Linked DNA regions of Homo sapiens: region 2 is linked to region 1. A link means that fine-mapping ties the variant in region 1 to the expression of a gene that starts in the linked region. Tissue or cell type: whole blood. Region 1 holds a variant in brackets; the other region holds the start of a gene. All regions are shown on one strand. Distances are from middle to middle. Region 1 overlaps THADA (THADA armadillo repeat containing). Region 2 holds the start of THADA (THADA armadillo repeat containing).

What was found. PIP is the estimated chance that this variant, and not a neighbour inherited with it, causes the effect.
Region 2: it holds the start of THADA, and the variant in region 1 is fine-mapped to the expression of THADA in whole blood (INTERVAL, PIP above 0.99).

Annotation. Positions count from the first base shown.
Region 1 is chr2:43,511,301-43,516,691 of GRCh38, forward strand. The region is part of intron 22 of THADA (THADA armadillo repeat containing); the gene reads right to left. Among named protein-coding and RNA genes, the nearest start is that of THADA, 82 kb to the right of the region's middle. RefSeq lists enhancers at 2,079-2,128, 2,139-2,188. The variant T/A (reference allele first, on the strand shown) is at 3,157.
Region 2 is chr2:43,593,732-43,599,122 of GRCh38, forward strand. It overlaps THADA (THADA armadillo repeat containing), which reads right to left and starts at 2,307. Exons shown (of 38, transcript NM_022065.5): 1 at 2,200-2,307.

The DNA.
Region 1 (5,391 bases):
ATACTAGTTCAATAATGCTCCTCAACTGTCAGTGGGCCTCCCCTGGGCCTCCCTGAGTGAGCCCGCAGAGGCTGTGGCAAAACCAACCACTCCAAGAAGGCAGGTCTGGAATGAGAGTAGAACATCTCACTATGCATCACCCTTCCCTGCATGAACTTTCAGTGGCTCTTGACTATTAACCAAATCATCTAACTCCTCTTCTAACTTTGTCAAACTCTCCTAGCTTGAAAGGTTGCCTATGACCTGGACCCAACCCTCCTACTTAAATCTAACCTTAACTTTTCCAAGTTCCTACACAAACTCCTCTGGTCTAGTAAGACTGTTTTTTGCTGGTTCTCATACTAACATACAACACACACACCTCATATTCCCAACTAAGCATTCGTTTATGGTCTCCACACATATCCCTATTCATCCAAACTGATGAAACTTCCTCCAAATACTGCATCTCACGAGGACTTTTCCTTTCTCTAAACTTCCAATTAACTTGAAGCAACTACTAGGTATTAGGCGTACATGGGATCAGTACAGTGTCATGGAAGGGCTGGAATCTGAACTAGACTTTGAAGGACATGTAGGTCGAATGGTGGAAGGTCCATATATGAGAGCTGAGGAAGTAAAAGATGAGATGACTGGGGAAAGAGCTAGGTCAAGGCCCCAGAGGCAATTCCCTAATTTAAACACTTGGCTAGTATAACTGTAAACAGTGAACTGGGCCTATTTATTCCCTTGAGTATTGCATACTAAGAACCAAATGCTCCTTGTTAATTTGCAGAATTTGAAAACAGAGGCCAGAAGAATGCTCTACAAGGTCAAGGCTGGCAAAATGCCATCGATAGAGCCATCTCTGCCCACTGCACCATGGACCCAGGAACCTCATGAGCTCTGGGAAATGCTCAAGGCACCAGCTCCTACCATCTAGTCCAAACCTTCTTATTCTGCTCTGGAATTCCCCAGCATCAAACCAGCTTTTACGCAGAATTCTTTACTTATCTGGTTTCCAGTGTGAACTCTACCACCGGTTCCCATTCCTCTGATTCCCTTGCTTCTCAGCTCTGCACCTCTCCCAGGCAAGTCCTGACCTCAAAGCCATACAAGGGAATTTGGTCCAATAATGGAACTTCCACCCTCCCTTTTTACTAAAATTAAACATACTACATTTTAAACAAAATCTACTTACAAGTTTTTTGTTTGTTTGTTTTTGTTTTGTTTTGTTTTTGAGACGAAATTTCACTCTTCTTGCCCAGGTTGGAGTGCAATGGCGCGATCTTGCCTCACTGCAACCTCCGCCTCCCAGATTCAAGTGATTCTCCTGCCTCAGCCTCCTGAGTAGCTGGGATTACAGGCATGGGCCACCACGCCCAGCTAACTTTGTATTTTTAGTAGAGATGGGGTTTCCCCATGTTGGTCGGGCTGATCTCGAACTCCCAACCTCAGGTGATCCGCCTGCCTCGGCCTCCCAAAGTGCTGGGATTACAGGCGTGAGCCACCGCACCCGGCCACAAGTTTTATTTAAACTATCATACTGGAAATATATTTGCCTGCCACAAAGGAAAGAAAAACAAATATTCGTTGGATGTCTATTACACGTCTGGTACGACACCAGGCTTTTCACAGCTGCTCTTACTTCATTCTTGGAACAAACTATGAGAAAGTTATTTTTCCCAACTAACAGATGAGAGGGAATATATCACAGTGGTTAGGAACACAGATTATGGACCCGTGTTATCTGGTTTAGAATCCTTTCTCTGCTACCTAGTAGCTGTACAATCCAAGGCAATTTACTAAATTTCTCCATTTTCTCACTTTGCTCTTCTATAAAATGACAGTTTTTGGAAGGATTGAGTTTGTTCTTATGTCTAATAAGTTCTTAATGGTCATTTTCTAAAATCATCGGTTATTATGAGAAAAGCAAGTATTAAAAGTTTCAATTGAAATGATAGAGATGAAACAGCTGAGTTTCCATTTTGACAGGACATCCCCCTACAATGCAAGTTAATGTTAACAATATGCAAAATATACAAATAGAAACCCCAAAACCAGCTGAGTCCAAAAGCAAGATAATCATCTGGGTAAAAATGAACAGAAATGCAAAGTAGTGAGTGTGCTGATACCAGAGACCCAAGAGTTACAGATTTAGAAGCAGTAGTGGCAGCCAAAGAATTTCAGCAGCCTCATCTCTTTTGAGAAGAACCTGAAAAAGGGCTACTGCCAGAGCTGCCTGAGGCTGTAGCAGTAGGAAAAGCCAAGGGCACAGGGGGCCTCTGAATCAGGCTGACTACTAACTCAGTGACTAGATCTATGATATCCCCAATTTCACTGTGAAGGGGGACACCCAAAATACCACTACCTAATCTAGTTCCTCTGATAGAGAGGAAAGAGCCTAGAAAGAGATCAGTAAACAAAAGGCTCCCATCATAGCCAGTGAGCCAAAATTCAAAATATAGAAATAAATTTTATATTAAGAAAGACAACCTAAAAAAATCAGTAATAACACACATTCACTCTATATGAAACTAATTTTATGGAGCAGTCTGACAAAAACCTTAAAATAACTATGTTTAGGATACTGAAGTGATAAATAAGGGAATAACTTCTATTTAAGAAGAGTTAACTGGGCATGGTGGCTCACATCTGTAGTCTCAGCAACTCAGGAGGCTAAAGCAGGAAGATCACTTGAGCCCAGGAATTCAGGGCTACAGTGAGTTATGATGACACCACTAGACTCCAGTGTGGATGACACAGTGAGACACTGTCCCTTAAAAAAAAAAAAAATAAAGAACAAGAAATCATGAAAAACAAGCCGTAGTGAAATAAGAACAGGCATGTATAAAAATAAAAAAGACTAGAAATAAAAGTGTACTTTCAGCCAAGCACGGTGGCTCACGCCTGTAATCCCAGCACTTTGGAAGGACGAGGCAGGCAGATCACGTGAGCTCTGGAGTTTGAGACCAGCCTGGGCAACATGGTGAAACACTATCTCTACAAAAAAATACAAAAATTAGCTGGGCATGGTGGCACTTGCCTGTAGTCTCAGCTACTTGGGAGGCTGAGGTGGGAGGATCGCTTGAGCCCAAGAGGCAGAGGTTGCAGTGAGCTGAGATCATGCCAAGGCACTCCAGCCTGGGTGACAGAGTGAGACCCTGTCTTAAAAAA[T/A]ATATATATAATATATAATATATATAATATACATAATATATACGTATATTTTATATATAATATATAATATACATAATATGTATATTTTATACACAATATAAATAATATACATAACATATATGTATATTTTATATATGTATATTTTATATATATTTTATATATTTTATATATATGTATATTTTATATATAATATATATATTGTATATAATAATATATAATATATTATATTATATATAATATATATAATATATATATAAATATATATTATATATAATATGTATAATATATAATATTTTATATATAATATGTATAATATATATTTTATATATAATAATATGTACAATATATATTTTATATATAATAATATGTACAATATATATTTTATATATAATAATATGTACAATATATATTTTATGTATAATATGTATAATATATATTTTATGTATAATATATATTTTATGTATAATATATATTTTACGTATATTTTATATATAATATATAATATTTTATATATAATATATAACATTTTATATATAATATATAATATTATATATATTATATATTTTATATATAATATATATAAATATATATATTTTATATATAATATATTTTATATATAATATATATAAATATATATATTATATATAATATATTTTATATATAATATATTTTATATATAATATATAATATATTTTATATATTATATATAATATATTATATATTATATATAATATATTATATATAATATATAATATATAATATATTATATATAATATATAATATATAATATATTATATATAATATATAATATATAATATATAATATATTATATATAATATATAATATGTAATATATAATATTTTATATATAATATATAATATAATATATAATATTTTATATATAATATATAATATATAATATATAATATTTTATATATAATATATATAAACTATATATACACACACACATATAAAACAGATAAGATGAATTCTAACGAATTCGTGACTTAGAAGATAGTTTTCTGGGAAATTTACCCAAAACAGTATACAGAATGAAAAAACCATAAAGTATGTGTGTGTATATACATAACGATAGTTCCATACCTGGAAAAAGCATAGCAAAATTGTGATTAATAAAAAAACTTACAAGCCACAGGAGATTTAAAGGAAAAAAAACTGGAGATCTACAAAGGAACATCAATTATACCAAACACAAGTTTCTCACTGGCAATAACAAAAGCAGTGAAGGAAAACAACTGTCCACCAGAATTGTATACCCCGTTAAAGTACATTCAAAAGCATAGGTAAGAAAAAGACAATCTGAAATATACAAAGATTAAGTCTGCCTTCCAGAGACTCTCACCAAAAGAAATTCTAAAGGATGTACTTCAACAAAGTACACCTAAAGTAGTTTCAATGGGGTGTCTACTAGACATGCCAAACTTAACATGCCCCAAACTAAACTCCTGATCTTCCTCCAAAAACCTACTCTACCCACAGTCTTGCCCATCCTAATAAAAGAATAACAAATCGATCTCTTCAGGGGCTCAAGCCAAAAACTTTGTAGTTATGCTCTCTCTCTCAAATAGCAAATCTAATCTGTCAACAAACCTTGCCTGCTCTATCTTCACGTTACATCCAGATTCAGATCACGTTTTACTTCCTCCACCACTTTCCAAGTCATCACTATCTCTTTTCTGTAGTATAGCAATATTGTAACTAATCGGTCTTTCTGTTTTCACTATTATAGTCTATTATCAACACAGAAGTAAGAGTAATCCTTTTAAAAGATGAGATCATGTCACTCCTCTGTTCACAAACACTCCAATGGCTCCCCATTTTACTCAGAGTAAAAGCCAAAGTTCTTACACAATGTCTTAGGCTGTCTAGTCCTCACAACTTCTCTGATCTCATCTACAACTCTTTCCTATGCTCACACTACTCCAGTCATAATTGGTTTACCTGATGTTCCTTAAATACCTACCCTAAGCCCAAGCCTCTCAGGACTTTTTCACCTGACATTCTCTCTGCCGTGAATACTCTTCCTCCAGGTATTTACATCGTGGTTGTACAACTGCTAATTTTAGTATTCACTATACCTTCTAGTACATGCAAATATTTCACACTAATGTTTAAAAATTGGGTAAAATAAGGGGGTAGAAGAGACGGAAGCTAAATAATTTGCTCAAGGTTACATAGCAAGTACGTGGCAGAGGGAGAATTAAAATGTATATTG
Region 2 (5,391 bases), 82 kb after region 1:
CAGGCCATTCTCCTGCCTCAGCCTCCCGAGTAGCTGGGACTACAGGCGCCCGCCACCACGCCCGGCTAATTTTTTCTATTTTTAGTAGAGACGGGGTTTCATCATGTTAGCCAGGATGGTCTCGATCTCCTGACCTCGTGATCCACCCACCTCGGCCCCCCAAAGTGCTGGGATTACAGGCGTGAGCCACCGCGCCCAGCCTTAGACTTCTTGTCTTGCTATTAGATTAGTAAAAGTCAGTACAAGCTACAGGGAAACAGATTCCAGATCAATACAAAGGAAAAGCTCTATGGTCCCACTAAGGACTGGGCTACCTTTTAAACAAAGAAATTTTCCAACACCAGGAATATTCAAAGAGAAGATGACTGAATATTTTCTCTTGGACTCCTGAAACAGCTCCCTAACTGGTCTCCTGACTTCTACACTTACCTCCAAAGAGCCCATTCTGTTTACAATCATCAAAGCAATCTCTTTAAAAAAAACTCTCATCAAATTGAATTACTTACTCTCTTCCTTAAAACTTTCCAAGGGTTTCTAAATACACTTAGAATAAAATTCAAACTTGAGGCCAGGAGTGGGGGCTCGTGCCTGTAATCCCAGCACTTTGGGAGGCCGAGGCGGGTGGATCTCCTGAAGTCAGGAGTTCAAGACCAGCCTGGCCAACATGGTGAAACCCCGTCTGCACTAACTAAAAATACAAAAATTAGCCGGGTGTGGTGGCAGGCGCCTATAACCCCAGCTACTCCGGAGGCTGAGGCAGGAGAATGGCTTGAACCCAGGAGGCAGAGGTTGCAGTGAGCCGAGATCGTGCCACTGCACTCCAGCCTGGGAGACAAGAGCGAAACTCCATCTCAAATAAATAAATAAATAAATAAATAAATAAATACTTGAGATTTTGCCCTTCAAGGCCCTAAATAATCTGACCCTGCCTTCCTCCACTCTTCATCTCAAACCAATCTCCTCTTCACCATCTCAAGAGCTTTGTACTTCCTGATGCTCTTATTCCCACCTAAGAGGCTTTACACTTCTCAGTATCTCTGCCCCTTAATGTTCATTCCACATCTTTGCAAGACTGACTCCTTCTCACCATTCATGTTTCTGCTGCAACATTACCTTCTAAAAGCCTTCCATGACCACTCTATCTAAAATCTCACCAATACAACACACGTAGACACCATTTCCGTTAATTTTCTTCATAGCACTTACTAGTACCAGAAATTACCCTAACTTGTAAATTTGTATATTGTCTGTCTCACCTAGTAGCAAACTGAATGAAGGCAGCAACTTTAATCTATTTTGTTCATGTTTCAAGTCTCAATTTCCAAACCAGTGCCTGGCACATAGTAGGTGTTTAACAAACACTTCACGAATAAACAAATTAATTAACAAACATTTGTCAGAGATGTTCTAGAAGGGATATATGTCTTTAAGGGCAGGAAGGTGGACTATCTGGTACCTAAAATGCATTCTACATCTAAGTGACATTCTACATCTTAAGAACCTATGGTCTGTTTGGGAAGTAAGAAATCCATACAGTAATGGCAGGTGAGCAACCACTTAACCAAAAATGGACGCAGCTAGGAAAGTGTCGACAACAGAATAATTTGTAAAGGGATAGTCAGATCTAGAGGAATAGAGGCACGCTTCCTAAGAAAGTGACCATCGTACAAAGCCAGAAGAGACTGGGAAACCTAACTAGGGAGACTATTCTCTGGTGAAAGGTAAGCAAGTTTGCAGGAGGATTTGCTCTTGCAATTCTGAGGGCTACACAAAAGCAGACTCGGTAATTATGCCTGCTCAAATGATGCCTAAACGTGTGTCCTGAAGAACCAGGGTCCCCAAGGGGGTAAATCCCGTGTCTACCGCAAGGCCAGAAGGTGCCCAGTAAATTACACTCCTCCTAGGTCCCACTTACTGCTTCCCTTTAGAACGCTGCTTCACTCTACACCTTCCTGGCTGACTCCCACAAACATTCTCTGGGCGATTTCTGAACCACGTGGAGTCGAGGAATGACAGTGGGAGAAAGTGGTTAAAGTGCTGTCTCCATGGAGACCTTAGCGACCGGAAATCAGTTTCACAGCCGCCGAATCCTGGCGATACCAAAGGATGGGAATTGGTGTGGCTCGCCAGGCAGCCCTAGCAAAACTGGCCGAGCCGAGCTACCGCGGGTCTGGCAGGCAGGACACCTGGGAGCCAAACCTCGTGCACGTCGGCGTCTGAGAAGAGTCGCAGGCGCCTGGTCCAGTCCCGGAAGCAGGTCTCCTTCTACGGCGTCTCCGAGGCTCGCAGCGCGGTCCACGGTCGACTACCGGGTCAGGGCAAAGGGAGGGAGAGAGGGGTAACCTGGAGGAGTCATCGCGAGAATTGACCAAACGCAGCTCCTCCAATCAGGAGTTCGAGGAGGTCGTGACGTCACCGGGGTGGCCGGTAGCAATCCGGTTTAGTTAACCAGCCACTGTACCGTCAGCGCCGCGCGTTCCTCATGGCGTTAGGGCTGACGGGCCTTGTTGCTGAGGGGCCTTCATTCAACGGTCTCTTGTTGAATGAAAAGACCTCATTCTCTTCACATGCTTGGACGCCTGGGAAGCGCTTTTCTCCCAATCCAGACCTTCCACCTTTCTCCCACTCTGTTGGCCCAGTGCAGAGTCTAGGAGAAAACTACGTCTGGGACTCGGGAACGAGTCCAGGGAGTTTAGAGCCTGCGAGATGGGGCAGGGGTTTGGGCGGCGACTGAACGGAAGCCACGAGAAGGATTCGGACTAAAATGAGTAGTGCTGAACCAACGTGTGCCAAAGCGCATATATTCATTCAATAGATAATGAACTCTACTGTCAGAGCGTCGCCAAGCGCTAGCCTTGAAAGCTATCCCCTACTGAGGATACATGTATTACGCAGCACATACAAATTGTCAGATGGTTCAGTCCTTGAAAAATAAATACAATAACGGGGTGTCACTGGGAGCTGCGACAGTGGGCAAGATCAGGAAAGACCTGATGCTATTATCAGGAGTATTAATTTGGAAAATAGAGACATTTCAGTTCTCTAAACGTTAATGACTTAAGTTTTTAATAATTATTTTCTGAATTTTTTATATCAGCTTGCCTTGGTTTTCTTTATAGCTTTACCACATAATGTATGTATCACTATCTTGTTTCGTTCAATTTTGAAGCTTTTGGAATTGCGTATGTATTCTCCAGCAATTTGCTTCTTTCAGCATTGCTTTTCATATTCACCTACAGGTGGCTGTAGTGCTCTTCGCCCAGGCTGGAGTGCAGTGGCGCGATCTCGGCTCACTGCAAACTCTGCCTCCCGGGTTCAAGTGATTCTCCTGCCTCAGCCTCCTAAGTAACCGGGATTACAGGCGCGCGCCACCACGCTCAGCTAATTTTTGTATTTTTTAGTGGAGACGGGGTTTCACCATGTTGCTCATGCTGGTCTTGAACTCCTGACCTCGTGATTCGCCCGCCTCGGTCTCCAAAAGTGCTGGGATTACAGGCGTGAGCCATGGCGCCCGGACCGTAATTTTCCATTGTTTAATATACTTCATTATGTATCCATCCTGCTGCCTCTTAACATGTGCATTATTTCCAGTTTTTGTTCTAAACATTGCTGCTGTGAACTATGTTGTGCATGTCAGCTGGTGAGTGTGTGCAGACGGTTCTCCACCATAATTTTTTCTGGTATTTTTGACCCTGACATAGTAAGAAATACATTGCAGACTTTGAAACTGTGGACGTAGAAGTACTCACACATAACTGAAGTAAAAATTTCTTGAAATGCTACTTTACAGGAGCTGTGAGATTTTATTTCCTTTTTTTCTAAATTATGGTAAAATACACAGCAAAATTTACCATTTTAACCATTTTTAAGTTTTATGTTTTTTAAAATATGTATATTGTTTCAGACCTACTAATTATATAACTCAGTGGGTCCGAACCCCTTTTTTGTTGGCAGACACTGCAACTCTTCACCCTGCACAGCGAGAGGTGGGCTAGGGAGCAAACATAATAAACATATGTTGAAAGGTGAAGCTACTGTTAAAACTTCAGACAAATTAAACTTAACAGGGTTTAATTGAGCAAGGGGAAAAATGATTCTCAAATCGGGCAGTCTCCAGAATCATAGCAGATTCAGAGAGACTCCAGGGATGCCTCGTGGTCAGAGCACATTTACAGACAAAGAAAGGAAAGTGATGTACAAAAAGCAAGTGAGGTACGGAAGCAGCTGGATGGGTTACAGCTTGGCATTTGCCTTACCTGAACACAGTTTGAACAGTAAGCATTGTATGAATAGTTGAAGTATGGCTGCTGGGATTGGCTGAAACTCAGCTATTGTTACAGAAGCACACTCCTAAATTAGGCTTTCAGTCTTGTCTACCTACTAAGTTAGGTTATGGTTCATCCACAAGGACTCAAATATGGAAGTGCAGAGGCTTTCTCAGGCGGTATTTAGTTCAATTTAACACCGCCATGGAAAAAATAGGGGAATGGAAAGTGAGAGTATAGGGGAGGTACATTGCAACTTTAAATAGGGTAATCAGGGTAGGCCTCACTGAGTAAAGATTTCCAAGAGACATAGACACTTGGTGAAGGGGAAACCTTCCATACAGAGGGAACAGCCAGTACAAAGTTTCCAGGGCAGGGCTTGCCTGCTGGGAGAATAGCAAGGAGGCAAGAGTGGCCGGAGCCAAGCAAGGTAAATACTAAGGAGTGGGACAAGGGGCTTTGGATTATATAAGGCTTTCACATTATTTCATGGACTCTTTCATGAAATGAGGAGTGATTTTGAGCAAAAGAATAATAACATCTAATGTACATTTCAAAATAATCACTGGAGCTACTTTGTTAAGAAGAGACTGTAGGTCGGACGCGGTGGCTCACGCCTGTAATCCCAACGCTTTGGGAGGCTGAGGCGGGTGGATCACCTGAGCTCAGAAGTTCAAGACCACCCTGGGGAACATGGTGAAACCTCGTCTCTACAAAAATGCAAAAAAAAAATTAGCTGGGCATGATGTTGTGTGCCTGTAGTCGCAGCTACTCGGGAGGCTGAGGCACGAGAATTGCTTGAGCCCCAGAGGCAGAGGTTGCAGTGAGCTAGCATTGCGCCACTGCACTCCAGCTTGAGCTGCAGAGTGAGACTCCGTCACAAAACAGAAAAAAAAATAAAAGACTGTAGAGCCTGCAGGAAGCCCAGTGAGGCTGTTGTGGTAAACTAGGCAGGCAGGATGCTGGTGGCACTGACCAGGGTGGTAGCAGTGGAGAGCGGGAAGTGGACAGGTTTTGGATATAATTTGAAAGCAGAGCTAACAGGATTTTTTTCTGAAGGATAGAATATGGGTATGAAGAAATGAAGAGTCAAAGATGAGTCCAAAGTTTCTGGCCTGAGCACCTA